Regions from separate parts of the Homo sapiens genome. Here all the other regions are linked to region 2. Evidence: fine-mapped expression QTL. A gene starts in region 2. Each other region holds a variant in brackets. All regions are shown on one strand. Distances are from middle to middle.

Region 1 (10,665 bases), 57 kb after region 2:
AGTCCTGACTTAATAGCAATTGAAACAAATGTAACAGATTAAACTTATTTTTTAAAAGTCAGAGGCCCTGTGACTTTATTTAATTTTTTGATCTTATGTTTAAATGACTAAGCTAAGTAAAATGACACTAGAAAATTGAAAATAGAGGAGGTGGCAAAAGGTGTTCTAGACAAATGCCAACCAAAAGTAAGTGAACATAACATTAAAAAAATTCAAGGTGAAAATATCAAAGGAAACAATAGTGACTATTTCACTGTGATAAAAAGAAAATAATTGAAGGACATTTAAAACTTATGCACCGTCAGAATAAATGTCTGTTAAAAACGTAAAGGTAACTATTAGGTAAGGAGATTTCCAACTGGTTTTGAACAAAATGCAACAAAAATTTAGGGGTCTTCATAAAAAAGTTCAGTATCATTTTGGGCACTTAGGTTGATTTACAAAGCAGGTCCTCAGAGGCTTAAACATTTATAAAATGTTTCCCCTCCCCCATTTGTCTTTAAAATTGGCTAATCTTAGGCATTAGAGGTCCTGAACTAAGTTTTGAACAAGGTAATGGGCAGCAAAGAGAAAAAATGTATGCTGCAATTCTGACTTTTAAAAATTCACCACCAACATCATCACAAAACTTTTGTAGTTCAGTTACTCTGTGTATTTGAAATTTTTGATAAAACTATAATGTGTGTATATAAATATATTTTTATGTATATATGTATAAATGTAAATTACATTTCTGCCATATATACACACACATACATACATATGTAATACACCCATACCCATGCACATATAGATGATTACCTTTAAATTTTTAACCACTCGATTGTTGTCTTTTATCCTTTGTGGCTGATAGTGCTTCCAATATCAACATGATTATTTCTTTTTTTTTTTTTTTCGAGACAGATTCTCTCTCTGTTGCCCAGGCTGGAGTGCAACAGTGCAATCTCAGTTCACTGCAACCTCTGCCTCCCGGGTTCCAGCGATTTTCCTGCCTCAGCCTCCCAAGTAGCTGGGATTACAGGCATGCACTATCACCCCGGCTAATTTTTGTATTTTTAGTAGAGATGGGGTTTCACCATGTTGGCCAGGCTGGTCTTAAACTCCTGACCTCAGGTGGTCCACCGACCTTGGCCTCCCAAAGTGCTGGGATTACAGGCATGAGCCACCATGCCTGGCCAACATGATTATTTCTTTACAGATAACTTTTGTTTCCTCTTTCATTGGAAGCATTAGCATTTTTTCCTTACTTTTGGTGCTGTAAAATTTCACTAATATGTGTCTTATATGATGGTTTCTATTTATTTTTATTTTTATGGCATTTTAAGATTTCTATTTTTATTCAATGCTGGGAAGTACTTTTGAATTGATTCTTTTACTTTCAAATTCTCTGCTTCTCCACTTCTTAATTTTGCTTCTCTCCATTTTATCTATTCTTTATTTGTAGCACTTGTTTTAAATGATGTTGGAATTTCTTCCCTCTATTTTTAATCTTTTCTTTATATTTTTCATCTTTTTCTTACTCTTGTGTTGATTTCTGGGAACACTGCTCAGTTCAGTTTTTCACATCTCAAATTCACCTGTCTATTTTGCCACTCAATCTACTTAATCATTTTAAAAGTTTTCAGTTATCGAAATGTTCAATTGCACCATCTCTAGGTAATTTTGTAAAATGCTTGCAATATTCTCACACTTTTCTCTAAGCTGATAATTATATGTCTTCATTCTCATTGAGTATAAGTTCTTTGATTGTTGAGTTTGTTCTCTCTCTCTCCGTGGTATTGAAATTCCTCAAGTTTTTGGTGATTCTTGATTGTAATATTATCTTCTTTCTACCATGTCTGTTTGTGCAAACTTCTTGGAAGGAGAATACCTATGAAGCTAATAGTCTGGCAAGGGTATAGAAGTGGTGAGACCTGCTGCTGGATGGGTCACTTTGATGACCAGTCCCCTGGGAGAGAGCACTTCCTGTTCCTCTCAGGCATGGAAAGGCATGAGAGCACTTCCCCATCTTTCTCACCCAACTTTCATGCCCATTGCCCCTGCTTGTGGGCATATTTTCCTTTTTGCTGCCTGGTCTGAGGGATAAGGTGGGTTAAGGAGGAGGGTTAAAGTGAGTGCTTGATCTTCCTGCTACTGTATTCAAACCATCACCCTGTTGGTCACCTGGATCCCATCAGATCCCAGTGGCCACCCTCTGTAGGTGGGAGCACTTGTGGTGACATGCCTACATTTAGAGTGGTCATATTCTCTTCTGAGGGCTGGGGGCCGTGGTTTCTTTTTCTTTTCTTTTTTTTTTTTTTTTTTTTTGAGATGGAGTTTTGCTCTTGTTGCCCAGGCTGGAGTGCAGTGGCACGATCTCGGCTCACTGCACCCTCCACCTCCAAGATTCAAGTGATTCTCCTGCCTCAGCTTCCCAAGTAACTGGGATTACAGGCATGAACCACCACACCTGGCTAATTTTGTGTTTTTAGTAGAGACAGGGTTTCACCTTGTTGGCCAGGCTGGTCTTGAACTCCTAACCTCAGGCGATCCACCCACCTTGGCCTCCCAAAGTGCTGGGATTACAGGTGTGAGCCACCACACCTGGCCTGTGGTTTCTTTTTAAAAATCAGATTGTAGCTACTTTCTGTCCAGAGGGGATTCATCACAACATCTAGCCTAGTGAGGGTTTGTTTCTCTTTTTTCTGTCCAGTGTGGTTACTGTATGTATATAGAAAATGATTTCTAGGAATTTGGTGGAAGGGGGGAGAGGTCACAGTGTGTGTTCAGTCTACCTGTCTGAGAGAGAAGTTGAGGCAATATTTTCTTCTAACCTCTCTGAGTCTCAGTTACTTCACATTCAAAATGAGGTGGTGATGATGATGAAGCATGAGGGTGGTAGTGGTGATTCTCAGTTAATATTTGAAATTGGAGTGTATGTCAGGCACTGTTCTAAGTACTTTACCTGTGCAAACACATCTAATGCCTCAACAACCCTATGATGTCTATTCTATTACTATTGCCATTTTATAGATGAAGAAACAGAGGTACAGTGAGATTAAATAATTTACCCAGATAAGGGGCTACCTACTATGTAGGATTAGTTTGAGAATTATTAAGCTAACACATGTAAAGCACTTAGCATAGTACCTGAAATATATTGGAACAACAAAAATGGCACTAATAAATATATACTGAGTGAATGAAAAGTCACCAAATATTTATATTCCATGCAGTTTGCAGAAGATCTTGTAGAAGTTAGTTGGACAGGGTGCCCTGTTCTAGTGTTTTCTGTCTTAGTGTTTTTATGTAATATAAAAGCTGTGTGTTTCTGGCCATTTGATTCTTACCCTACCAGCTCAATATTTAAAATTTTTACATATTGAGTTATTGGTGCTTGAAACCATTTTAAATCTTTCTGCTTTCTCATATGATATGATTGCAAATAAATTAGGTAATGAGTTTTAAAAAATCAGTTGTGGTTAATCTTTCAGGTTCAGAGAACTGAAAAATATATCTGCTTTAAGGGAACTTACATTCTAATTTCCATACACATATATATTACATGCATTTTTATACATGCTGCATGAGAAAGATGTCCTTTATATGGTGGTTCTGTATTGAATACCAGCATCCAGCACATTGTCTGGCACAGAGCAGGTGTTCAATAAAGTACTGCTGATTCAATGGAATCTTTTTCATGTGTTATACGTAAATGTGCATGTATATGTAAATTGGAATGCAAATCTGTGCCTTCCTGGGACCCATAGTCTAGTGGAAGAGAGTGACAAGAAGCAATTGCAATACATCACCGCACTAATGCTCTGTTGAATGTATTCTGGGAGTATGGAAGAAGGAGAAGGTGACTGTGTTTGGGAAAAAAAAAACACAGAGAGGTGATATTTATTTAAGCTGGATGTTGAAGGTGGGTAGGAGATTGCCAAGGAGAACATGGGAAAGGGCATTCAGTCAGGGAAAGTGGAGGAAAGCAAACTGACTAGCAAAGTCCTGAGAATCTACAAAGTGAAAATCTGTTCAGTGATATAGTGTTAATCTGAAAAGGCTTCTGTTGAATTTTGAAAAAGATCATGCAGAAGATGATAAGCATGGTTTCACAAAATGTAATATAATTCTGCAATTCTTTGCCTAAAGGCTTTCAGTGGTTTGCTGTTTTCTGCAGCAGAATACAAGATCCCTCCTGACCTGACCACATGCAGCCTGCCCTCCAGCTATACTGGACTACTTGTGGTTCCTTGAATTGTGTGCTATTTCATGCCTCCTTCCTTTTGAATGTGCTCTTTTGCATGCTGTAACACCAACCCTGCCATCCCTCTGGCTGGTATCTATTCAGCTAAGTGACTATTCCCTGACTGTGCTTCCTCCCCATTTCCTTCTATTTTCCGTTACTCGTTGACTAGGCTCACCCTAAACTTCACTCACCCAGTTGACATTAGTATCTCCTCCACTACATAGCTTCTCACCAAGGGCTTGAAGGCAGGGGTTGTATTGTATTCTATTTGAACTCCTTGTGTGCCTGGCACTTAGTAGTCATTCAGCAAATATTACCAAATGAACAGATAATGACTGAACAAGCTAATTAATGAATTAATGAATGAATGAATGGCAGATATGAAAGGGGGAAGAATTCAGGAAGACAGGCAAAATATTTCAAGGATACCTTTAAGGCCAAATGAAGAAATGGAAGGTTGATCCAGCCAATCCTTGTCACATGATCACCTTCATGGGAGGAAGAATATATTATTCCCGGTCTGCTTACCCCTTCTCTAATGGTCCTTTTACCACTACTAATGCTCTGTATGAGCCTCTCAATCCAGGTGTCCCGCAAGGTCTGAGTCCCACTGAAGCTTTTCTTAAGTTGAGTAAAAGTAACCTGAAAAAACTGATAAGCATTTTTCTTAGTAGAAATCCTTCCTCTGAGCAGTAACCTCTGAATATTATGTATAAAACCATTACATTACTTAATGGATAAGACTCATGTTAAAATTCACCTTGTCTCCACAGAAGATAGACCCAGAGTTTAGTCTTTGCTTTTAGTGGCCACATGTAAAAGTGGTGTACAGTGGAGCTGTATTACTTATTATAGGTCTTGTGTTAAAATAGGACAAAGGTAAAATTAGAAACCAGGATGCCAGATTTCAGGTCCCCAGTCTTACAACAAATAAACATGCTTCCTATTTAGGTCCTCTTTGGTCTCTCTCCTCCTTATCATCACCATCAGCAGATGCTCAATGAACACCTCCTATTTGGGTGTGACATCCTGTTGTGTGCTTGTGATGCACAGTTAGACCCTTCAGATTGTTTATAATAAGGGAGATGGAGAACCTTCACAAAATCCCCCGATGTAAACGCATTTCCTAGATCCCTTGTGGAATTTATTGTAATTCTATACATGCACACAATAAACATCAGAGGGCTTCGAGTAGGTGCCTCATCATCAGGAATGCCCTGTATCCTCATCTCCCAAACCGTGGCACAGGGCTGATTCCCCTGTGTTTACTACCCTAATCTCTGTGCTCTATGGCAACATGGTGTTTTATATGGCTTTTATATGGTAGTGTGTACTCCTTGTGTGCCTGGCACTTAGTAGTTATTCAGCAATATTTGATAAATATTGAACAAATTAACAAATGAATGACACATATGAAAGTGAGAGAATTAGGAAGGCAGATGATGGGGTTTAGAATATGCTCCCCAAAATATGTCACCTTGGCGTACTCAATGTTTTAAGCTAAAGGAATTTGAAAAACAACGTGTGCAGGAAAGACTCTCTGGTCTTCCCCTGAAAGAGCTCATAGAACGCTCATGTGAGAGGTGCCCTCCCATCCCTGGAGGAAAGGAGCATCGTGATCCCTGAAGACAGAGGGACACTGACAGGGATATGAACAAATGGACCTCGCAAAGTCTCCCCTAGTTTACTGTACTTAGCCCACACCATTTTGTCTTATTGTATTTTTCCATAATTTTCCACTCTTCATCAAACCTGGTATTA[A/G]AACAGTCAGGTATAATCATTTCTTGGAGTCCTCATTTCCTTATAAAGGCTCCTGTGTCTTATAAAAGTTATACAGGTTAAGCATCCCTAATCCAAAAATCCAAAATCAGGAAATGCTCCAAAATCTGTAACTTCTTGTAACGTGGTATTCAAATGCTCATTGGAGCATTTCAGATTTTGGAGTTTTGGATTAGAGATGCTCAACTGGTGAGTATAACATGAATATTCCCAAATCAAAGAAATCCAAAACACCTCTGCTCCCATGCATTTTGGATAAAGGATATTTAACCTGAATTAAATAAATCTGTATGTTTTTCTTTTGTTAATTTGTCTTTTGTTATAGAACCACAGCTGAGAACCTGGAAGGGTAAAAGGAAAAGGTTTTTTCCTCCACTACGCGGGCAAAATATTGCAAGGATGTTCTTAAGGTCCTAAAAAATCTTAAGATTTAACAGGTTTTTAGGCAGAAATGTTGTACTTTCCATTTAGAAAGAAGTTGAAGCTTTATATCCAACATTATATATGTTTAACATAATAACAGTTAAAGATACACTTAAAAAAAGATGGAGAGAATTTTCAAGGAATAGGATTTCAGGAGCTAGAGGTACTAGGAGTTATGAATCTCCCCATTAGATAGGTAGACAATGAAAAAAAAAAGGGGGAAGGGGATGATTTGCAGTTTGATGGTAACAGGATCGTTGAGAGCAGCAAAACAGAAGTAAATTGATGCTCATCTCCCAGATTAGTTGAGAACGGCCTAATTAGCTAATGAACAGTTCCAGTCCTATGTTCTGAAAGGCTCTGTTTCTGGGCAAGCCGCAGTGCTTAGCAGCAGCTGCTAAACCATGTGGACATGCTAACACCAAGCAGAGGAGCACATGTTATGTTTTGACCTGCAAAGACTCGTCTTTTTGAGTCACACATTCTTCAAGGAGTATTAGAGATCTTGTTTCTTCGTATAATAGAGAAGTAGCAGTCTCAGTGGCATGAACTCTGGAGCCAGACTGCCTGGGTTCAAATCTCAGCTTTGTCACTTACTAACACAGTGATCACTGCTGCTTGGTCTCTATGTCCTCATGTAGGCCCTTGCTCCCCACCATTGTATCAGGTTTGGTCTGGGTGACCAAGAGAACACGGCAGAAGTGAGGGTGTGGCTTTTGAGGCTAGGTCCTAGCAGACATTGCCATATCTTCCTTGCTCTCTTGGATCACTTGCTTGGTGGGGAAGCAGGTTACCATATCATGAGGACACTCAAGGAGCCCTATGGAAAGTCACATGATCAGGAACTGGAGACTCCTGCCAAAGCCATGAGTAAGCCGTCCTGGAAACCCAGATTAGTCAAGTGTTCAGATAACTGCAAACCCCAGCTGACAGCTTGACTCCAACTGTGGTTGGTTTCTTGACTGCAACCTCATGAGAGATCTTGAGCAAAAGATCCCCACAAAAACACTCTCAGATTCCCCACATTGCTAATTACTGTTTTAAGCCACGAAGCTTGCTTTTCAGAAGTGTTAATAGATAATTAAAGCAAAAAACTTTGTAAAGAACTAGTTTAAAGGATGTTCTTAACAACAGACTTGACTTGATGAAGAAATAGTGGCTGATATTGTTTGGCTTTGTGTCTCCACCCAAATCTCATCTTGAATTGTAATCTCCACAGTCCCCACATGTCAAGGGGGAGATCAGGTGGAGGTAATTGAATCATGGGGGTGGTTTCCCCCATGCTGTTCTCATGATAGTGAGTGAGTTCTCACGAGATCTGATGGTTTTATAAGGGGCTCTTCCCCATTGGCTCAGCACTTCTCCTTCCTGCTGCCTTGTGAAGAAAGTGTCTTACTTCCCCTTTGCCATGATTCTAAGTTTCCTGAGGCCTCCCCAGCCACGCTGAACTGTGAGTCAGTTAAAACTCTTTCCCTTATAAATTACCCAGTCCCGAGCAGTTCTTTATAGCAGTATGAAATCGGACTAATACAGTGGCATGCCTTTTAATTTCTTGATTTATGGAATACCTTTAAAGTAATGTTACCTAAAGTAACTTTTGTGGAACAGTAGTCCTGCAAGATGCTCCATATATAAGGGGTTTGATGTGTTTATTAGTTTGGGAAATGCTGCATACTAGATCTCCTTCTTGGAAATACACGTTGCTCATAAGCATATTAAAGAATATAAACAAGTCTTAAGGATTTTTTGTTTGTTTGCGTAGTCCATTGTTTCCTAAACTCATATAACCAAGGAATTTTTAAAGTCAAATGTCACATATTAAAATATTAGAGAATACTCTGTAAGAAATGTTGTCTTATAACACTGATTCTCAGACTTATGCCTACATCAGAATTGTCTGGAAAGCTTAAAACGAGATTGTTGGGCCCCACTCCCTGTGTTTCTAATTCAGATAACCTGGGGTAGGGCTTGAAAATTTGCATTTCTAATAAGATCCCTGCTGATGCTGATGCTGCTGATGGGTGCGTGTGTCGGGAGGGGACCACATTTTGGGAACCACTGTTCACTAGGGTTTCAGGTTCCTGAGTAAGAGCTTAAAGAATGAACATGCAAATGGCCAATAAGCACAGGAACTGATGTTCATCTGCTATGGACTGAATGTTCCTGTCCACAAATTCATATGTTGAAACCCCAGTCCCCAATGTAATGATATTTGGAGGTAGGGTTTGGGGGAGCTAATTAGTTCATAAGGGTACAGCCTTTATGATGGGAATAGTGCTTTCAGAACAGCCGTAAGAGAGCTTGCTTCATCTCTCTCTGTCATGTGAGAACACAGTAAGAAGATGGTTCTCTGCAGACTGAGAAGAGGGTCCTCGCCAGGAATCTAACTGGCCAGCACCTTGATCTTGGACATCCCAGCCTCCAAAACTTTGAGAAATAAATTTCTGTTGTTGAGGCCACCCAGTGTATGGTATTTTTTAAAGCAGCTGGAACTGAGCAAGGCAACATCATTAGCCATTAGGGAAATGCAAATAAAAACCACGATAAGATACCACCTCACACCCATTAGGGTGGTTACAATAAAAGAGACAGACAATAACAAATATTGAGCAGGAATATGGAGAAATTTGGATCCTCACACATTGCTGTTGAGAATGTGAAATGGCACAGCCTCTTTTAAGCTCCTTAAAATGTTAAACATGGACCATATGACCCAGCTATTTCACCTCTAGAAATTTTAAGAGGCATAACATATACCCATACAAAAAGTTGTGCATTAATGTCCATAGCAGCATCATTCACAATAGACAAAAAGTATCCCAAGTGTACATCAGCTGATGAATGGGTAGACAAAATGTGGCATGTCAGACAATGGAATACTACTCGACAATGAAAAGCAACAAAGTACTGATACTTGCTATAATGTGGGTGGACCTGGAAAACATAAAGAAGTTCCTCACAACAGGCTACATATTTTATGACTCCATTTATATTAAAAAGTTCAGAATGAGCAAATCCATAAAGGGCGTACGATAGTTGTTACGAAAGGCTGGTAGAAGTGAGGTGGGGAGTTGACTGGTAATGGGTTTGGAGTTTTTTTGGAGCGTTGAAAATGTCCTAAAATTAGATAGTGGTGATGGTTGCACAATCCTGAATATACTAAAAAAAAAAACCCCACTGAATTGTACGCTTTAGAAGGGTAAATTATGTGGTTGTAAATTATAACTCAATAAAGCTGCTATAAAAATGCATATAGCTTCTAAATTAGGATGGCAACAAAAGTACAAATATCCAATTGCAGTATACGTTTTAACTTTATTGTAACCTATAAGGTGCCAGAGGCATACTACAAATGGTGGCAGTGGTGGGTTGGTGCAAGCTGAAAATTTAGATGTAGCTGGCGTTTTAGCACCCTTCTCCCCCTCCTTCATTCCCGTGCAGATAATAAATGTTTATTGTTGTTCTATTGTGGCCCCAAGTGAGCTGTGGACATGGTGGGGAAGCAGCAGGCTGACCCCGGAGGGTTTGCTAATCAGAGAGAGTGTAAAACCTGTTTCAGAATCTGTCATTTACATGGGGCAGCAAATGACAGATAGCAATTTAAAGGGTCACCTTTCCCAGGGTATGGCTGTTTGTTTTGGTCATTGTGGTTGGTTGTTTTGCATTTTAAGAATGTTTGGAGCCTTAAGCTAGCACAGTGGCTCTCCAAACTTCAGCGTGCATCAAAATCTTCTGAGGTTCTTGTTTAAAATGAAAAATTTGGCCCTACCCCCAGAGGGTAAGGAATCTGCCTGTTTAGCAAGCACTCAGATCATTCTGATGCAGGTGGCTCATGGACCACGGTAAAAACATTTCAGCTCCAAAAAAAAAAGTCTTGCTATGTTGGGGGTGTACATAAATAAGCATGGGGCTGATCTAACCAACCCCAGGACAGTAGTTACTCCCAGAAGGAGGGGATGAAAACAGGTTGGGTGGAGCCTTGCCTGTGTCTGAAATGTCTAGGTTTTTTAAAACATGATTTGAAAGAAATAACAGAAAATATTAACCCCTGTTACATATAATACCATGTTTGTTGTATCTTTTGCCTTATTTTTTGACTATTTGAAATGCAGTATCTCAAAGTATTTTGTCATACTTGGCATTTTAGATGTTCGTCCATTCCAGGGACTCAGCGCACTGAGGCAGGGAAGACAGTGGTCCAGTTGGTGGGCTCCCTGTGTCCTGCAGGGCTGTGG
Region 2 (10,665 bases):
TTGAACTGTAAGTTTTTAGAGGCTATGACTGTGTCTAATTTATCTCTGAGCCCCAGAATCCCTGAGAACAATGTGTGGCTCATCAAAGGGGATTAATGAGTATTTGTTAAATGGGTTTATGAATTCATGAATAAGTAAACAAACACACAGCTCTCTCAGGTATCATGGCCTTTGGGTCTCCAGACACTGGTCTCTACTATTTTTTTTTCCTTTTTTCCTCCATTCCTCTTTCTGACCTGATCTCAGGCACTTACATGTCTCTGCTCCTCTGTCCATCCCCCGCACAACAGAGTGTGTTCATCCCTGGCTGCACTTCTGAAGTTGGCTTTCAGAAACAGAGTCTGTAGACATGCAGTGTTTCCAGTGTGTTACCGTGGTCACAGCTACTGAAGGTGAAATGTACATAACAAGTACTTACGTAGCACATACTTATTGTGTGCAAGGTACTGATCTAAGAGCTTTATGCATATAAACTAACTTAATTTTCACAACAGCCCAGTGGAGCAGAATGGTATTATTCTTAACAATTAAACCCTCTGGGAGACTCTCTGGTTCAAGGTCATGCCTTACCTCTCTAAAGCTCAAGATCCTGCCTATAACTTGACTCTTAAGCAAGGAAAATATTATTTTGACATGCAGTATGTTAATAATGGTCACATATTGTGAAGAATCCTGTCCTTATTATTAGGAGATCCAGCTCTGCTATTTCCTAGCTCTGTGCACTTGGACAAGTCCCTGACTCTCTGGGTGTTCAGATAACAGGATGTGCCTCACAGTCCTTCTGCAAAGATGCAATGAGAAAACATTACGGTTGGCACCCAGGAAGTGATGGGTTGTCATAAATGAATGGTTTTTAAAACACTTTAAAACCAACTTTGCTGACCTGTGGTTAGCTGATAGCATGTTGGAGTGTGGGGCTTCTCAGGCTTAGGTTTGAGAGATGCTGATTCTAGGGACGGACATTACATAAGGATGTGAAGTTATGTTTTCACCCAAGTAAGGGCTGTGAGGTATTGTGAAAGCCACCAGACTCCCAAGATGTCTGCATTGCCATAATGCTCCTCTGCTCCACTATGCATTTGCACATGGTCTCCTGCCAACTTTTTTCTTAAGAACCCACTCCCAAATCCTCTCTGCATTATGTTCCTTAGAGCACTGCTTTGCATAAGAGTCTATTTCTTGGAAAAGCTCAACGGAGGAAAAATAGAACAAAAGGGGCTCTGATAACTTAAGCATAAGCTATCTGAGTGTAACTGGCAGGGTGGGGGAAGATGAAGGAGCAGGCCTGGTGGGAGGGGCACAGGCCATTTGGATGAAGCCCACATTCACAGACTTCTCAGTGATGGGTGAAAAATCTCTTATGAAGATGGCCCAAGGCCTGACAGATCTGGGAAGAGCTTAAGAATGAGGGTAATAGGCCAACTGCTTCTCCAACTTTGCCACTCATGTCCATCTGTCTTAGTACAAACTCCCACAGGCTGCCTGATCTGGGGCAGTGTGGACACCTTGTTTTCTGCCTTTTCCAGAAGAGGCTGGAGGGACTACCTACCAGTCCCCTTCACACCTGATTGCAGCTCGATGATACACTGCAGTAGAGGGGCTGCAGGATAAATGCTTTGAAATGTAATAGTCTTCATGGGCTTTATAAAGTAGGAAAGTTTTCCACTTGCTTCCTTAGCTCCTGTTGGGTTTCCACTTTGCAGGTCATTGCTTTCAGAAAAACATGTGGAGCATTTGGTAACCCCATCTTAACTTGGGAGGGTGTGTGTGGGGCTGCACTTTCCAACTACTGTGAGATGGGCTGGCTGCATTGTGGTGAAATTTAGTACCTCAACAAAGTCCCATAGGGGAGTAGAGGGCTGTTGACAAGAGGTCAGAGCCTAGGAATATCTAAGCTCTGAGGCATGGTGCATGGGGTGCTGGGCTGCCAAGCACTCGTGCTCAGTGACCAGTAGATGGTGCTCTGACAACAGGAAAATACAGTTACTGTCCCTCTGAGACTGGAAAGGGATTTTCAGATGGTCTTCAGACTGGTTTCCAATCAGAGTTATGACTAATTGCTAATTTTCCACATTTCCATTTGTGGATCCTTAATAGGACAGTGGAACTCGGGGCACTGGAAGGAGAATGCCCACCAAATTCCCATATGAAGAAATTCCCATATGAAGTCATGCAATACCGCATGACTACAGTATTCTGGTCATGAACTTTTTCTGAGGATCCTCCTGGATATTGAGGGCATGGTGCCAGGAACACTTGGCCTCTGATCAAATTCAATTTGAGGATGGTAAGCATAGCATTTCCATAGGCTTAGTGTCATTGTATAGTTTCTTCTCTTGATAAACAATTTAGAATTACCCTATTGCTGTCCTGAAGGGCAGCATGGGTTTTAGAAAGAGCCGCAGATTGGAAGTCAGATGTGTTAGAAGTCCACACTCTGCCGCTTATCAGATGTGGGCAAACGGCTTAACGTTGCTGAAACTCTGCTGCTTTGTCTGTCAAGGGTCGTGATACATGTGTTACCAGGCTCACCTCAGAAGTTTGGAGTCAGGCTCAGCTGTGGGGCTTATGTAAACTGAAAACTATTAAACACATGTATTATTCAACCATTAAAATTGTAGCCACTGGCGGGGCGCAATGGCTCATGCTAGCACTTTGGGAGGCTGAGGCAGGTGGATTGCTTGAGCCTAGGAGTTGCCAGCTAGGACAACATAGTGAGACCGTCGTCTCTATAAAAAAAAATAAAAACAACAACTGTAGCTGCCTTGGGGGCTGGTAGAATGGGGGATTAGAGAGTATGAAACCAGTATAGAAATTCATAGATCTCAAAGCTCTCAAGAGCTATGACAGCCAGGTGGGGGTGGAAGATGAGAGTCTGTCTTCCTGCTAGCACTGCTGCCCTTAGGCCAAGTCTCTTCACAAAGCCATTTATGCCATTATGTTTGCCCCTTTCCTTTTTGGCTGCACCCTCCAAGAATTATCCCTTTTAACTCACATAGGTGCTGAAACTCCCTAAGGTATTCCACATTAATTCCCAACCTATGCATTTATGATTCCTGTCTCCTTGGAAGGCAAGAAGGCAGATATCAACTCCAGTGTGTCGTCGCATTTGCACATGTAGTATCCCATCTTGAGTATTCTAGGTCTCTGAAGAATTACAACAGCCAAAGAGAATACAGGACGTGGAATACTGGATCTCTGCTGACATCTGATAACACTGAAGAGACAAGTCGGGGATCTCTGATGTTCCAAGAACTAAGTCTGGGAAGTAAAAGGCTAGTGAGCCCTGCTTATTCTGGGCATTGAGAAGGTATGCCGCCAGCCTGCTGAGGCAGAACCACAAAGGAAAGGGGTGAGGTGACAGCATGAGAGTGAAGTTCATGAAGCTTTCTGGCCTGCAAGGTTATACAATCTAGTATAATCTAGTGTAAAAAGCTACATGATTTATGTCATCACCCATCTTGTTCATTATAGTATCCTCAGTGCCTAAAACAGTGCCTGGCACCTGGAAGGGACTCAAAGATACTTCTCTAATGATTTGAATGAATTTTGTGCTATGGATTATGGTACTGTCTGAAAGGAGCGACATACACTTAATAATTTCTGAAAGCCCTTTTTCTAACCCTATGTAGTTTACAGGGATACCGAGATAGCCACTTGGGACTAGTTCTAAGTGACTGGCTGATGGGACTTCATGGTTCACAGCACCACCCTCCCTCCGTTTCACGACTGACTAGGTATTCAGACAGAAGAGGACCCTCTGATTAAAGCAGGAGGAAGGACAGAGTAAGGCAGTAATGTGAAATCAAAGTAACAATTACAGCTGACTCACCTTGAATAGTAATTTCACCTGAAATGGGCTCCCCTGAATCCAAAGGTCAAATGCCTTCCCCAAGGGCAGCAGGCTGGACATGTTGAGACCATTCCTTTGGATTTCCAGTAGAGAATTTTCCTACACACACACACACACACACACACACACACACACACTCTCACATACATTCTCACACAACAGACACATGTCAGTGCTCACAGGGCCTTGCCCACAGACAGACACATACCCGTAGAAACACACATGCCATGCACTCAGACATCACCTCACTTCTCAACAGTTAATCTCACTTCACAGGCGTGAAGCCATACTCACCCATGGTTTCCAACCTCTGGGCTTTGGTCAGTGTCTGTTTCCTTCCTCAGCCCCTCCTTTCCTTCTTCCCTTCCATTGTTCGGGTTGGAAGGATTTGGAGAGGCCTATGTGTTGAGCCAAGGCAGGAAAACACAGAAGACGGTGTGCCCCAGCTAGTGTGGACATGGGAGGGGACAGCTGGTCCCTGCCCTCAGTTCAAACCACCAGTCACCTGTGGGGAAGGGCTTGGCGGCTAAACAGGAGCTCTTTCCCTGGGGCTTGGAGTCCACCTTTCCCACCTCTGCAGCTCAGATACCAATTCTATTTTTTTTTTTTTCTACATTAATGGGTTGGGTTTGAGAAAGTCCGTGGAGCTTATTTGGGAGTAAAGGATGGGGGGCGGGAGGATCCTTCTGATTGTTCGCATTTCGAGAAGGGTAGTTTTAGCCCATAACTCACCATGGAGGGCCCTTCCAGGAGACGTCGGGCAGGGCTTTCCTACAGCGGAACCGGGAGGCCGCCCCGTGAGGGCAGAAGCTCCCGCCAGGAGCCAGCACCACCAGCAGAGTGTGGAACCCCCAGAGGTCCTAGCCTCCTCCACGGGGCCTCCCAGGTGCTAAGTGGGGAGATGGGGAGAGGGTTCTGCCCTCTACTTGGAAATGCCTGGCCGTGTTCGTGGAGCCTGGGAGGTGCGGAGGAGCGGCGACGCGGCCATGGCGCTAGGCGCGCAAAGGCCCCGACACCTTACTAGGGCGGCGGCGGGCCCGTGGCACCGCTCCCGGCACCGAACAGGGCACAGCACTGGGGACACCTCTCTGCAGGGACCCAAGACGCGCGTGCGTGTGCGCCCCACGCCAGGCCCTCGCTCTCTTGCGGAGACTCCGCCGCATCGCTGGCTGCACCTGCCTCTCTCTTCTCGGCATTACTTGGGGGAAAGGGGACTCTTCACTGGACCTTTGCAGAGGTGGCTGCTACCCTTTGGCCACATAAATCAAGAAGGCAAGCCAGCCTCACCTTCCAGGAACCTCCAGCCTTCCGGCTGCGTCCCCGCCCCTCCCGCCTGGCCAGCTCCTCCCCCGCTTCTCCCAGCGCTCTTGCGCGCCTCGCTGCGCCTCTGCGCGCCGCTCGCTGTCCTCTGCCTCGCCTCCCCATTCTCCTTCCGCATCTTCTCCAGTGCTCCGCCGAGGGCGCTGCCTGCGGGGAAGAGGGAGACTGAGCCGTTAGTGAGGAAGTTCGGTCTGTGGACAAGTGTGGTGCCAGGCCGCCGCGAGGCTCGGCTGCAACCTGTTCCTCGCCCGCCGGTGCTCGCCGCCCGCCCGCTCGCACTCCCGCCCTCTCGGCGGCGCAGCCGCGGATCGCTGTTGCATGCTGATCCGGGGAGGCGGCGGTGGCGAGCGCTCCGGGCGGATGCTGGCACTCAGGCTTCGCTGCTCTCTGGATGCTGCTCAACTTCTAGCCCAAGCGCAGGAGCTTTGAAGTCATTTGTCCCTTTTCGCTTGGATCGACTTCTTATTTTGAGATTTTGGGCATTGCGGTTTACGCAGGAACCTCAATATCGCTCTCCCCACCTCCCTCCCTCTTTCTCCAACCTTTGGATGCGTCTCTGCTGGCAGATATAAAGACCCAAGTCTTCGCGGTGGAATTTCTTAGATGGACTTGCAGGGGCTGGCGTTATAAAGCATGTCATCGTAACCCCGTCCTCGTCTTTGTTTATTTTTTTTTAAAGTTCTTTTGTTTTCATTTTCCCCTCCTTCCCACCCCTTCCCCCAACCAATAAATCACCAAACTGTTACCTAGCGGGCCGGTGCCTGCCTCTCTCCCTGAACTAGGTGGTGCGTCTGCCAGAAGAGGAGCTATGTTTGAAGAGCAGCCTACTCCACCCCTCTCCTCTCTGGTCCCTGAACACCACCACACACTGGCATTTTGAAAAAAATATTTTCCTCCAGAAACTGGGCACCCCCAAGCCCTACCACCCGCTTTTTTTTTCTTTTTTCTTTTTTTTTTTTTTCCTTCTTGAGGAATGGAGCTTCGCAGAGGTTGCATTTAGATTCAACAGTTCACAGCGGCGGGCTGCTGCTGCTGCCTCTCCGAAGAGCTCGCGGAGCTCCCCAGAGGCGGTGGTCCCCGTGCTTGTCTGGATGCGGCTCTGAGTCTCCGTGTGTCTTTCTGCTTGTTGCTGTGTGCGGGTGTTCGGCCGCGATCACCTTTGTGTGTCTTCTGTCTGTTTAAACCTCAGGATGGCTCGCTTCGGGGAGGCGGTGGTCGCCAGGCCAGGGTCCGGCGATGGAGACTCGGACCAGAGCAGGAACCGGCAAGGAACCCCCGTGCCGGCCTCGGGGCAGGCGGCCGCCTACAAGCAGACGAAAGCACAGAGGGCGCGGACTATGGCTTTGTACAACCCCATTCCCGTCCGGCAGAACTGTTTCACCGTCAACAGATCCCTGTTCATCTTCGGAGAAGATAACATTGTCAGGAAATATGCCAAGAAGCTCATCGATTGGCCATATCCTTTCTTGCCCACCATAACTCCCTCTCCCCCTTTGCATTTCTTCGGGTGAAGGGGGGTACCTAGCATGGAATGTATCCCCCACCCCTTCCTGGTGCCAATTTGCCCCTTTGCTGAAGCACACTCTTCGGTGCATCTAAGGGGCAAGCTTGGTGCCGTGGAGACCCGTTTGGGCACTAGTGTTTTTCAAGGTAAGACTTTTGGTTTTTTATTTTTCCTATGTGGAAATCTTTAGTGTCCCTGGGTGCATCCCTTTCTGGGCTGGGCTTTGTCTGATTCCCAGCCCCCTCCCCACCCCTACTCCCTTCACATGCCGCCCTCTACATAGATTGGGTTGCCCCAATGCTTCCTTTCATAATTAATTCTCATTTTCCTTTCTTTAAGCCAGCCACTCTGCCCGTATCCCCACCAACCAGGAGACACCGCACTGTCTTCCTGTAGGGAAGTCAAGGCTCCATGAGGGGATTTATCAGTTCAGAAGTTCCCAGGGCCAAAACCCTGTGTACAGATAGACAAATGAATAAATAAAACAGGCTTTTGGGTGGGGACTCAGCTAACTCTAGGGACTTAAGTTTAAGTTCCACTGAAAGTGGCATGAGTGAGTGTCTGTCAGGGGAGGTGATCTCTGTTGCCACAGCCCAAGGAGCTCAAACTTGGAGTTCTCCTCTCAGCCAAGAAAGAGCAGCTCATCAGGCCCATCCTGTCCTTGGTCCTTGGTTGGGTACTCTTGCTTCTTAGTGCTTGACCCAGCTGATTGCTCTCCCAGTATCCAGGATCCAGGTGGATCGGCTGGGCCTGAATTCATCCGCTGAGGCCAGAGGTGTGCATGCAGTCTCTCTCTCCCTAGCTCCAAAGGAACTGCTCTCCCCAAAGCACTGGTGGGGGCCATCTCTGATGGTGGTGGTGTCAGGGTGAACAGGCATGGAAGGAGCTTCTTTGCAGGTTTAATCAAGTGCACCAAATGCAGACTGCTGATTAGGCAGCTCACTGCCTTGTTCTTCACTAAGGATTGGACGCCTGGCAAGGCCATTGGGAATTGGGGGTGGTGAGGCAGTGAAGGGGATTAGTAGGAGGCAAGCTAGTGGTCTGGCGTTAAATATGGGGATGGGGTTGGAGACATGGGACTTTGGGAGGGAGATTTGGGAGGGATGCATCTGCAATGGAGGCCCCTTCTTTTCTCCCCTATTCTCCCTCTTTCCCACCCCCACCGTCCAGGTGTGCAGCAGTGAGGCAGCTGGAGCTGCCTTGGGTCTCTAGTATTAGCCAGACACGCGGCTCATTTCCCCCAGGGCCTGGGCATCTCCCTACTCCCCCAACCCCAGTCTCTGGCCTTCCCCTTCTTCTCTAGTTCCCTGCCTCAGCAGCTCGGTGATTGGCTGGCGCGTGGTGCTTCTAGGCAGCACCCCCTCATTAGAAACGAAGGAGCATCTCTAAGCAGATATTCTTCCTGCTGCTGTTCGCATCCTCCCACAGCAACCCCGGCTGGGCTTCTCCCTCTCTCCTCTCTGCATCCCGCTCCCCTGCTCCACTCTCACAGAGTGATCCCAGGCCATCCATTGCCTGAGTTGAACGTATCTAGCTAGGGTGGAGGTTTCGGGCGGGGGAGGGGTCGGGTCCCTGCAGTCACGCCTGCCGGTGCGCTGCACAAAGCGGACAGATCTCATTGTGTTGTGTGCTGCGGCTGCAAATATTCCTCTAGGCAGTCTACGGATTTCCCAGCTGGGCCCTCCTTTCTCACTCGGCTTCTACGGTTCTCTAAATCTTCCCATCCACCAGGTGCTGCCTTGCTGTGCCCCTCTCTTAGGGGCGTGTTTATTCAGACAGGCGCCCTCCCGTTTCTTTGCGGTAGACAAAGCCGCCCAACCGCCCCGCGGGTGGCAAAGTGTGCCAGCAGCCATCGTTGGCACCTCGGACAGCGCCGCTGAAACTCCCGGCGGCCCGGGGCTCCCCAGTTACCCGGGTTCAGCACCTCGGGTACTTCTGGCCGGGCCCAGCCTTGGAGCTGAGAAACCAGGCACGTTTCCTACACCACGTGGTCACCTTTTTTCACGTTTTCTCTTCCGCTGCAAAGACACCGCCTTTCCACCAGGCGTTGCGAGCGCGCAAGGTGCGGCTGTGAGTCTTACTCCTCCCTTTCCTTGTCTTTGGCCAAAAATGGACCAAAGAGAGTCAAACGGGAGACTCTCGAGGGAGTTGATTTCAGCATCATGCTCAGTGCCTTGGCCCCGAGCCCTGTCCCAATGGTCTCTTTTGTCTGCATAGTTGGAAATTTCACAGTGGTTCTACAGCATGTAGGCTGTGGTAACAGTGTTCAGGGAACATCTGCTAAGGTGTTTAGTGGAGCCCTGTTGGAAAATATAAAATACACCATGTACAATGTAATTGACTAATATATTCCCTCTGGTGGTGACCACGTGGAAACATTGGGCTTCCGTGGGAAACGCACCTAAATTCCTAGTCTCACCTTCCTTTCCTTTCTAAACAAATAACTTCCCAAGTATCTTGCTTTGTCTTATTGGGAGTCAGTCTGGGTAGTGGTTGCCCATAAAGCTTTGGAGCTAGGCTGCCTGGGTTGAAATCCTAGTTCCTTCACCAGCTTTCTGACCTTGAAAATTACTTCATTACTCTGTGACTCAGTCTTCTTACCTGTTAAATGAGGATAATAATAATAATACTGGGAGAATTAAATGACTTAATATATATCACATGCCTAAAACATTATCTAATTACCCAGTAATCACTAGTTGTTATTATTAATGGCATCTTTCAGAAATTTCAGCGTGCCTGAAGTGGGGAGGGGTCTTAGTTCAGGTGAAGTCCTCTAGATTCTTGCCTCTCAAAGAGAGCAAGGAGCTGCATCCACATCACCTGGGAGCTTGCTAAAAATTCAGAATCCTGGGCCCCACTTCAATCCTGCTGAATCAGAATCTGCATTGTAATGAGATCCCTGTGTGATTAATATGCTCATTAAAGTTTAGGAAGTACTTCTTTGCTCTTTGTAAGTGCCAGATTTTTTTTTTTTTTTTTAAGAAAGGAAGGTTGTTCAGTTGTTCAGAAAACATGTCAAGACCTGCTTTCATATTGACATTTGCACATTTAGCATGCTTGAGGATTTTGTTTGTGTTACAACACGTTTTGAGACTTACACTTTCATTGGCTGCAGAAAGTCACTGTAGGACGAGGGGGATAATGTACACTTCTATGTGCCGCATTAGTGGTCTCATCATGCTGTGCATTACTGGTCTTTAATCATGTTTGTCTGAAAAGATTGGTTAAGTAAAAGGAATGGTTTAATTTATGCTTCTAGGATCACCCCGACTTGGAGGGGGAGGGTAATCTTATCCAGTTATTAATAGGGGAGGTCTAGTTCTTATGGGAAGAAATGCTCAAGATAACCCAGATTTGGCATGAAAGATGGTGGCAAGTCAACAGCCTACTCTGAATGTGTTTCATTTTTCTTGGAAGCTACATCTGCATAGGGAGATAATTTTATTTTCTTATGGCACTTTCCTCTGCAGTGGATACCATACTCTTTTTAAAAATGCTAATGTGATTTAAAATGTGATGTTACATTCTATACGATTCCTCGTTTTCATTTTCTTTTTTGCTCATCTAATAGATCTTCTCTGGCAGTTGGCTGTTCTGAGTGCCCTCCCATGTTCACCGTGCCTCATGCTTACCAGCTCTCACTGTTTCATGCCCAGGGCCAGTTACCCTGTGGGCCATACAGCATCTCTCATGTGGTTTGCAGGATGCCCCACACTTGTTTGAACTTTTCCAGGTCACGGGTGTGAAGGCAAGAAGTAGTGTGTCTGGCTTGGAGACTCTATGCCAGAGTTGGGCAATAGGATATTCCCCCCACACCTCCATCGCCTTGGTTGTCTCAGCAGGGGAGAACATGCTTCGTGTGGAAATGAATATGGCTTACAGTAGGAAGGTCAAATATGTTTGCAGCCCTGAGATAATGAAGCTCATCACAATGAACCTGTGGACATTAATCCATGATTTCTTATTGTAGAGAATTTCACTGTAT
Region 3 (10,665 bases), 20 kb after region 2:
AGGGAGCAGGTCTGAGGAATATGGGCCTATGTCAATCCGAGGATCTGGGCATTTTGGCAAGAGCACCCTCCCTTCTCATAGAGAGGTATTTATTTATTTTTGAGATCACCATCTGCCCCACCACCTCCCCCCACCTGAAGTTCTATGGATAAGGATGTTACATCTCTGGGTAACCTCTTTCCCTGGCGATGATTAAAGAGTAACAAATGCCCACTCAGAAAGACTGTACAGGCTGAGAAAGACTGAGCTCATTTCTGTCACAAACATCAGTAGACAGGCTCAGGAGAGCAAAGCAAAGGAATAGATTCTAGGAAATTAGAACTTCTAACAGCTTTCTATACTTCCACTGTGAAAAAGGCTGGGTGCAGAACAACCTGCATAATCATATGCCTTACCATTTCTCTTTTTATCTTACCTTCGTGTCTTTTTATCATATAATTTTACCACCATTCTATAAGGACCTCCCTCCAGGCCTGGAGAGCTTTCTGTTCCTCAATATGCATCCCTGAGAATGGATGGAGGAAACTAACCTTTAATGAATGCCTATTGTATGACAGGCACTCTACAGTGTGCTCTAGAGGAGTGTATCATTTAATCCAACCCCGGGTGAAGTGGATATTGTTCTCATTTTATAGATGATTAGCTTAAGGTCACAGATAGATGTGGTCTGACTGGTGCCACTGGCTGCTCTCTTTCCATTGTTTCATGCTGCCTTGGGTTAGACCAGAAGACCAGCAGGTACTCTTCCCTAACAGAGTATCTTTTTAGGATGACACTGTGAACTACTTGCATGCATCTGCAGCATCACTGGGTATGAGGCTAACTCATGAAGGAGTGAAGGATCAGTAGATGGAAGAAGAGCAACTATCTCTTTCCCATCATTATGGTCATCATGAAATGGACCTGAGACATCCTGGCCTGGGTCACTGGAATGCGAGCTTGAGTCGGAATCTGAGATCTTTGCTATTTTGTCTTTCCCCCGCCAAAACTCCACTGCTGCAGTTCCTTTATCTGTCTGCAGAGCGCGTTTGGTTTGGAAATGCCAGTTCCCCTTTCAATATTAGCATGGAAAGTCCATTTTCTTTTTTCCGGTTCTCAGAGAAGTCTACCCTCAGTCCTTTCTGTTCTGGGGTACCCATAGTGTGAGTCATAGTGTGGAGGTGGCAGCTTTCATGACCTTCTCTTGAAATTTTACATACTGAATGCAGCTTTTTAAGGAAATGAGGGTTGGGTTATAGAGAGACTGCAGAAAGACTCTTATATCCTGATAAAGACTATAGAAGAGGCTTATAGTAGGTTTGTGGAAAAGGGCAGCTTTTCCACAATGGTTCACTTCCAGGCCACCATTGTGAAGATTCTAGCTTTTCTTTAACTCTGTTAGAGAAGCTGCTAGCGAATCCAACTGGTCATGGAGCTCCTATGCTTGACAATTTAGAAGTATTTCCATGGACTCTAGACCCTTTCAAGATGTCCCTGGGTGTGCCAGGATTTCCATTTTTGAATGCTATTGTGGGATCTCCTCATTAGTAATTTCACCAAAAATGGCTTCTCTCAGTTGTAATCATGTATGCTCTTTCTTTCTCCTCCATTTCCCTTCCCATCATGTTCCTCATTAGCATAACAGAATACTAGAATATTAGATTTATAGAGAATAAAAAGAAACTTGAATCAAACTCACACTTATCCATAAGAAAACTGAAGGCCATAGAGGTTAAATGATTTGCCTCAATAAGTGGCAGAGCAGAGCCTAGAACCCAGGGCCGCGACCAAGTGCCAGCATCCTTTTGTCACATTTTCTCTTCTTTCCTCTGTACCCTTTCTGTGCTCAACCATCTTCTCTCTAGTCCCTTCTTTCTCTTCTGGGGCTTCCTCATCCTTAGCAAGTATATGTTTTTGGTGTTTGGGGCATAGGAGGCTGGATATAAGGATCATGACTAATAAGAAAGGACTTACGTAAGAAAAAATAGGAATGGATAAGAGAAAGATATTCATAGAGGTGAAGCCAACCAGCAGAGATCCAGTGAGAATTGGTAACAGTGACTCAGAAAAATGGTTAATATTCTTCTTTCCCAAATATGTTGCTGGAGAACTTTGTGAAATGATAATATAAAACTCAATAGGCAATGGACTTCTACCCAGTGTAAAACCAAGAGCAGATCTCAGCAGATGGGAGAATAGATGGATGCTTAGGCAAGCACTCATCTCAGAATGGTTGCTGGGCTCTTCAGTAGCCCTAAGAAAGGCAAACTATCCAGACTCTGCCCTGAGAGGTAGCTCTTTGAGAACAATTGAGTACTCCTGGGAAGGAGGAAGCAGCTCAAATAAAAAGATCTTTAGATCCCTTTCTTTTAGAATTCTCTATTGGAGCTAAGAGACCAGGGAATTTTATTTGATTATTCTGATAATAGTTTTCCCAAGCTTTTCAGGGTGTAGGGCTGAGAGTACAGAGAGGTTTCTAGCCCTGGTTCTAGAAAAATCTCATTCCTTTCCTGGTCTCAGCATCTACATCTGTAAAATGAGTGTGTTGGAATAGTTACTAAGACTCTAAGGTGCCTTTCAGTTCCCACTGTAGAGACTCTGGGATTCTAGTTTCCATCATTGTTATTTCAGCTGATTGGAGGACACGATTAACTTTCTTGGTCTCCAGCATTCGAAGCCTGGCTGCACATTAGAATAAGCCTGGGAACTTCTAGAAATGCTGATACCTAGACTGCAGCCAAGACAAATTAAATCCAAATTTCTGGAGATAGGACCCCTGTATTCTTAATTTTGAAAAGCTTTCCAGGTGATTCTATGGTCCAGCCATGGCTGAGATCCACTGATCTTCTAGACCGAGGGGAGCCAGTTACCTGACTTCCTTCTGTTTCTTTTGAGTGTACTTTGATTACGTCTTGGCTGCTCCCTCTCAGTTTTCTTGCAGGCTATGGTGAAATAGCAGGAGCCGCCTGGGTGTCTTGAAATTTAGCCTGAGAGAATGGGGTGATTAATTCTTATGTGTCACTGCATTGACAAAGCCATTCACCTGTGGCTGCTTCCGACACACCTCCAGCTGCACAGGTAACAGCCTTCTGTGATGAGGGGGATGGACCAGACATCCTGAATGCAGGTCTGGCTGAGGAGGCCATTTGAGGCTGAAGGACAGAGTAAGGCTCACCCAGGAGGCCCTTGAGCAAGTGACTAAGAGTTGTTGACCTTGCTTCCTACCTGGTTGGTTCACCCCTTATGCATATGAAGGTTGATCCAGCATGACTACCATTGAATACAGCAGTCACCGCCTTAACATCCTTGACACTCCCCTGGGGATGTGGAACTCACAATAAGTGCTGTGCTGAAACTGGCTTGTCCCAGCTCTTGAGTGTCCTCTCTGTATGTCTCTTCTAGACTCCATGTTCAGTGATATCAAGATGGTAGCTTGAAATTGGCCATGGAGAGAGTATTTATACCCCAGAAATTTGCAAATGCTACACATTGGGGCTTTTCCCCCGAAGTTAAACATCTATTAGCACAACACTTAGTTTTCTACTTAACAAAATAGTCCATTCACTTGTGGAACAGTGGAAGTTCTTCTCTTTATTGCTCCAGATCTGTCTTCGGATGGGTACTCTGCACATTGGGTCTTAGTCTTTGCCTCCATAATAACTTAGAAAACATCTGAGCCCCTTATTACAAGCTAGCCCTTCAGATATTTGAAAGCAGCTGTGATGTATTTCTCAAGTCTTCCCTTTCCAAGCTGAGTATCCCTAGTTCTTTCAACATTATCTCACGTGGTTTGCAGGCTCAGTAGGTGTCTTTGAATGCCAGGGCACAGTTGCAGAGTTTTCAGAGGAAAACAAACATTCTCCCACAGGTGATCTATGGACTCTTTCACAAAAGGCTTTTCATTTTTCTTATGCTGTCTCAGTTCCATGATGCTGGTGTTGATATGAAGTGGGGTGTAGTCTTGGGTGGGGTTGCTGATTGCACCTCATAGTCATCTTCCCTGAAATGCACGTTGCTGCCAGAACTCTTGATGGGCTCCAATTCATCAGAGTGTCATCAAAACACAAATTCTCGTTTCTGAAACAGGTAATTTTCCCACTGCTGTTTTGTTTTCTTCCAGAGGCTTTTAATGCTCCCCTTTTCTTTTTTCCCTTTTCTGTAGCGTTCAATCATTTGTCTGCTGTTCACCAAAACTGTGTGTTGAATGACAGCGTTTTGAGTCCAGGATCCAGTCACACGCAAAACAAATGAATTTGTTAAGACTTATCCAGCTGTCTGTAACTGCAAGGGGCATGGCAGTGGGAGGAGGGAGGGAGACAGTACTGTCTTATTTTCTCAGAACCAGCACTTCCCATCCTTTGGGAATCAGGGCCCAGATGAGTCTGGAACTGACCTCAGTGTTGGTTCACCAAAGTAGCAATCATGTGCACTTCCTTTCAGCCACTTTATCCAGAGGGCAGGGTCCTGGGAGTCAGATGGGAGTTCTTTGGTCTAAAGTAATGAGAATTTGGACTTGCCTTCACAGCCAGCATTAAATGGGTAATGCTTAGGATCTTTTGCTTTGAGTAACTGAGTCCACTGACCTCCATGAGAGAGCAGCAGGATTGTATTGGCAAACAAAAGGCCTTTTGGGGAGTTCTCTGCCTCTTTGTTATGTTCTCAATATTGCTTTATTTGTCTTTCATTCATTAGGTTTTTAGGAGTAGGTGTGATGGCATTTCCATCTTCTTGACAGCAGGAGTGGGGAAGAGAGAGAGAGAGAGGGATTAAGAAGGAGAGAGGTGTGTGTCTGTTCAGGACTGCCTGTCAGATGGTGAATTTGAACAGAGGCAGCTGTTGTCATGGCGATGGCAGGTTGCATCCCACCACCATGGAAACCAAAGTTAAAAAACTGATGTTAAGGCTGGAAGTCACATGATACATTTTTGTTTTGTTTTGTTTTAAAAAAAGAAAAGGGGTTTGGTTTTTTAGTCTTTTTTTTTAAGATGAGGTTGGGTGGTGAGAAAAATTGCACAAGGAAAGCAATGAGATGATGACATGGGACAGTATGGAGTAGGCAGAGCCTTCTTTCATGTTTTTCTGCTTGTTGACAGTGCATGTCTCCTGCCGTGGTTAGAGAGGGGATGGGAGGGGTATGCAGGGTGGACTTCCAGGTTTGCAGCCAGAGTTGTACACTGCTAACTGTCACATGGAGAAACACAGGGGTTTAGCCCTCTTGCCCTTTGGAGGTGATGTGTGGTTCACCTTCTGTTGATCAGCCCAGAACAGACCCAGGAAACCTAAAAGTATGGACTACCCAAATAGGAAGATAGTCCATATATTGATAAATTTGGAAGGTTAACATTTATTTTCAGAGAATTGAAAAGTTCATCTATAGCTCCTCAGAATCTCCAGGAATAGTTCTGTCTGTTTATTCCCTTTTCTGGGCTGGTCTCTTTTGGGCTGCCATGTCCTGCCAGGGCAGCCATAGGAGTGAGTGCAAAGAAGTCCAGAAGGAGCCCTGGGCCAAGACTCCTTGCACCATAGCTTATCTCTTAACCTGGGCCCTCTCACCTGGGCAGGGTGGAGCGGCTTGCTGAGAGGCATTAGAAAGCCCTCTTGGCTCTCCATCTTTTTACCTCATACTGACTTCTACTTTATGCCATGATCTGGAGAAAATGTGAAACATCCCTCCAGGAAGGGAGCTGGACTGGCCAGGGCTGTTTTTGCTTGCTTGTTCTTTTTTTGTTTTGTTTTGTTTTTTGAGACAGAGTCTCACCCTGTCCCCCAGGCTGGAGTGCAGTGGTATGATCTCGGCTCACCACAACCTCCATCTCCTGGGTTCAAGCTATTCTCCTGCCTCAGCCTCCTAAGTAGCTGGGATTACAGGTGCCCACCACCATGTCTGGCTAATTTTTGTATTAATTGCAGAGACAGTGTTTCACCATGTTGGCCAGGCTGGTCTTGAACTCTTGACCTCAAGTGATTCACTCGCCTCGGCCTCCCAAAGTGCTGGGATTGCAGGCGTGAGCCACTGTGCCTGGCCAGGCCAGGCCTGTTTGAACAGGGCTGGTTTGAATTTTCCTTTTGTGTAGACAGGTTAGGAAGCAGAGATTTCTGTAAGAATGTCTGCTTCTAGGAAGGTGAGGAAGACCATGAGGGATGCAGACACACTGTTGAAGTGATGGTCATAACTATTGCTATGTCTGGGTTTTAGGCACAAGGTCTTATGTCTTCGGCATTACTCGTCCCTCCAGGACAGATGTATCTTTCTCAGTCGGCTCAGACGAGGGTCATATGATCTCACCAGCATGATCTCACTGCATTTCCATCAGGGTCTGTGGGAACTGGAGCCAGACTTCTGTGATGGTTCAACCCCTCCTGTTCTTAGCCCTGGCCTGGGGTGTGATTAATATCCCTTCTAATCACTGGGAGAGATTGCATCAGAGCCATCAGCTTCATAAATCCTCCTCTGGGGACTGGTGTTTGGATGCGCTTTCCATATTCTCAGGAGGTTCTGGGCCAAATGTCTTTGCTCTTTTCCTGGAGGCCCATTACCATAATTTTCTTTTAAATCCTTTATTGGAGTTGGTCTCCTCTGTGTCAGTCCATGGCTACAGCCAGCCAGCCCACTCCTGAGGGCTGGAGGCTGTAACCACCAACAGATGCTTTCCCCAAAGTATTGA[G/A]CCACAGTAGATGCTGAAAGATTGAGTTAGTAGGATACTGAAAGTAACTGTATTTGTGCAACACTTTACAGTTTTCAGAGGGAGTTCAGATTCCGGTATCATTTTAGGCTTCAGTCCTTTTGTATTTCTTGTTTGGTTCTGTGGGAATGGATGGTCATAACCCTTCATTGACTCTTGAGTACTGTGTTGGGACAGCTTTTGCAGTCGGAGGCCTGGCTCTGGTTTCCTTTACCAAGCTACATTTTTTCCATTGCATTCCAGGTCTTGAAGAAGATTCTGAAGTTACACGGAAGGCTTGGATAGCTGTATTTCATTCCTGTTCATATGTAAAATGTCTATTTGGTGTCATGCTAATAGGGAATCACAGACTAGTTAAGGCTCTTTCTCTGTTACTGTCTTTGAGTCAAAGTCCACTTATTAGGATGATATTTATGTGCACATGAAGAAGAGGTGGAAAGACATGCATGAAGGTGTCCATGCCATCCTCTGAGGCTGTTACATCTCTTGGATTTAGACATCCAAAAACATGAGACTGAAGGGAGAAAAGGAGACAGGTCTTCCTGTAGGGTCTGGGGTGAGGGGTGGAAATGGGTAAAGGAGGCTGAGGAATGCCTCCCCTCAGACTGTGGACTCTTCTATACCCCCCCAGGAGTTTCCAGGAAGTGCCTGAGTGCCCACCGACTGCTCCCCACAAAAGCATATTCTGCATTAGGCTGAAGTTGGGAGAGTGCACAGCATTCTATCTGCCTGCCTGTCAGAGCATGGCCTTCTTAGTGTTCGGATGTCATAGGCTCTGGGAGGAGACAGCTAAGTACAGAGGTCTTCAGGATGAGCCCCCTGGTGGTGATAGAGATGCATGTTTGCCTGGGGACACCCAATATTTACTGCCTGAGGCCTAAGTCCTTCCCAAGCATGTACCTACAGATCTGTACCTGAGAGGTGATGATGAGGAGGCTTTTCAGGCTCAGGCAGATGAAGAGCTCAGCTCCAGGCCAGGCCCCCAGGGCTCCGGTGACAGCAGAACCAGCATCACCACCCTTGCCCCAGCTTTCTGTGCTTCAAGAAGGAAATGAACAAATGGCAGGTGTGCAGGCCACGTCGTGCTGCTCAAATTAGCCATGTTGCTAAGGAAACAAGTCAACCATTCAAAGGAAGGAGCATTGGGTAAAGGAGATAAATCAATAAGTGAACCTATTTTTATCATTTCCCTAATGATTGTCTTGAAACTGCTAGACTAGAAAGAGAGTTGGAGCAACACAGGTCCTCATTAATGGGCTCAGAGGGAACGAGGAGTGAAGGGGTGTTTGAGGAGATTGCCAGTAAAGTTTATGAAATGAGGCCTCTAGTGAGCAGTGAGCTGGTACAGGAGGGAAGGCAGGAAGGAAGATGTCTTTTGCAAGTTTCAAAGTGGTTTCATGGTCATTTCCTCATTTTGGCCAGGTCCCTTCATTCTCTTGCATTTAATCCTCTCCGAAGTCTTTTTCTGATTTCTCTGGCCATCGCATTCCTCCTCACTCTCAGGTTGGGATGGGTTTTTGTGTTGATTTGTTCTTTTCAGGATACATATAGCTTTAATTGATTTTGTAGTGATAAATGAACACATGCTCATTTGAACACTCAGAAAATGGTTAGAGGAGTAAAGAAGAAAGTGAAAATAACCCTGCTACCGAGAGAAGACTCATCATCCTTCCAGCAAGACAGAATTTTTTCTTGTTCTCTCCCTTCTCTTTTTTTTTGTTTTTGTTTTTTTTGAGACGGAGTCTTGCTGTGTTGCCCAGGCTGGAATGCAGTCGCACGATCTCAGCTCACTGCAAGCTCTGCCTCCCAGGTTCACGCCATTCTCCTGCCTCAGCCTCCTGAGTAGCTGGGACTACAGGTGCGTGCCACCATGCCTGGCTAACATTTTGTATTTTTTTTAGTAGAGATGGGGTTTCACCGTGTTAGCCAGGATGATCTTGATCTCCTGACCTCGTGATCTGCCCACCTCGGCTTCTGAAAGTGCTGGGATTACAGGCGTGAGCCACCGCACCTGGCCTTCTCTTTTTTTTTTTAAACATGAAAGGGATCTTCCATGTATGCTGGTTTATTTTCTTTTTTAAATAGGTCATGTGTGTCTACAGTGGACAGTATAAAAAGTTCAAATGGGTATACAGTGTGGAGAGTGTGGGTACCTTTTGTAAGGATACCTCTGGCTCTAGTTTCCCTGTATGATTCATTTATCAATTGAATATTAATTTATTAATAAAATAACAGTTACCGGGGCCCCACTGTGTGCCAAGTACAGTGGTGAGTGAGGCAGGCAAGGTCCTGCCCTGGGGCTCCCAGTCCTTACTGCCCCATCATCTCCATTTGTTCAAGATTTCAAAACACAAGCAATCTGGATACCAGGGATAGATATTCTTCCCTAAAATATGCACAGTGTCAGGCACAGAGTGTAATGAGTGTCACTGAATTCTAGAACAGAGAGTCAGAGTCCTGGACAGACTTCCATCTTGTCCCTGATTGTGGTTGCCATGAAGGGTGATGGTCTTTGAGGCCGTGGCGACTCGGAGCTCCCTTTGACCTTTCTAAGTCATGTCTTTGTCCAGTCTGCCAGGTTGAGGGGCACTAGCTTGACTGGTGGGTGGGTGTTATTTGCCGTCTAGGCTCTTCACTTTGGGGATGTAGCAGAGCCATTGCTTTGGGGTGTGAAGTTTTGCTGTCGGGAAGAAATGGGAGTGGTGCCTCGGAGGCAGCCTGCAAGGGTGGGAGTGAGCAGGAGCCATGGCTCAGGCCAGAGTGGGTGAGCAAAGCCCTGTCTTTGTAATGGCTCCTTAGTGAATGCCTCATGTTCATTCTTACCTGCATTGAACATTGACTAAGCTCCTACTATATACCATGGGCTCTGCTAAGCACTGCCAGTAGAGACATGAGCAAAACTCCTGCTTTCAAGATATAGTTTCTTGATTTAAATAGGAGAAGAAATAATACAGTCACACAATTCAAAGAGCTGTGGGGCACGGGGAGAAACTTTCACTGACAAGGTGGCATTTCAGCTTGGTCTTGATGTATGACTGGAAAGGAGAAGAAACGCCATTGCATGTGGTGGCAGAAGCACCTAGATGTAAATGCCTCTTTTTTGTGCTTTCTTCAGAAAGGGAAGTGGAAAAGAGTTTAAAGAACAGGGCTGTAAGGGAGAGTGGCTGGGGCCTAGGCAGACTTGGATGGTCTCTTCTGCTCACCTCCCCTGAGATTTCCCTGCCACTATCCATTCTTTCACCTAGCCCACAGTTACACAGAATCTCCACATTCTCACTGCAGGTTCTTCATTACCGCAGCCATGAATTCATCCTGAGGTCTAGATGCCCTATAAGGCTGAAAGGGACATCCCTCTCAAGGGCATATATATCTGAACAATTTTAAAAATGTAAAGCAAAAAAAAAAATATTTTTAAGCCAGAAGATTGCTGCTGTGAATGGGCCTCACATCAGATAGTGGGAAGAGGATTTGGCTGGAGAGGAAGTGAGAATAGGGTCTTCTTAGAACCTGTGAATTACCAAACTCCCACCTTTAGATTCTAGACTTTAGGGCCTTGGGTAGCACCAGCCATCAAGACCTCATGAATTCTCAGCCACCCAGATACCTGGCCAGTCACTGGGAGTTTGACTCATCAGCACCTGGGCCAAGAGCCATTCCGCTGCCTGGAGCATCTTCCGGTGGTGTTGGCTACACCTTCCTGAGCTAGCCTGTGTCCCCACAAACCTCACATATCTGCCCTTGGACATTCTGGACTAGTTGAGCTTAAAGGTCCTTATAGGGAGCAATATACTTGGGTTAACTGGCTAGGAAAATGCAGGTATGGGTGTGGAAGCAGGGAGCTGGGGCAGTGGAGGAACTGCCATGGTCCAAGGGGATATTGTGAGTGGAGAGTCAGGGGCAGTGGAGGAGCTGCCATGGTCCAAGTGGGTATTGTGAGTGGGGAGGCCTCGGAGGCACATGGCTGCCAGGACCTGTCTTGCCTGCAGGCTCAGCACTGAGAACC

What was found.
Region 1: its variant is fine-mapped to the expression of CACNA1E in whole blood (TOPMed, PIP above 0.99).
Region 3: its variant is fine-mapped to the expression of CACNA1E in whole blood (TOPMed, PIP above 0.99).

What each region holds. Positions count from the first base shown.
Region 1 is chr1:181,534,810-181,545,474 of GRCh38, forward strand. All of the region lies in intron 3 of CACNA1E (calcium voltage-gated channel subunit alpha1 E), which reads left to right. Among named protein-coding and RNA genes, the nearest start is that of CACNA1E, 57 kb to the left of the region's middle. The variant A/G (reference allele first, on the strand shown) is at 5,990.
Region 2 is chr1:181,477,382-181,488,046 of GRCh38, forward strand. CACNA1E (calcium voltage-gated channel subunit alpha1 E) reads left to right here and starts at 6,136. Exons shown (of 48, transcript NM_001205293.3): 1 at 6,136-6,629. The coding sequence starts at 6,364. RefSeq lists enhancers at 4,327-4,859, 4,911-5,040, 5,843-6,367, 6,368-6,891, 7,854-7,983 and silencers at 5,191-5,320, 5,361-5,490.
Region 3 is chr1:181,496,995-181,507,659 of GRCh38, forward strand. The region is part of intron 1 of CACNA1E (calcium voltage-gated channel subunit alpha1 E); the gene reads left to right. Among named protein-coding and RNA genes, the nearest start is that of CACNA1E, 19 kb to the left of the region's middle. RefSeq lists enhancers at 1,009-1,158, 7,731-7,850, 8,271-8,500. The variant G/A (reference allele first, on the strand shown) is at 6,645.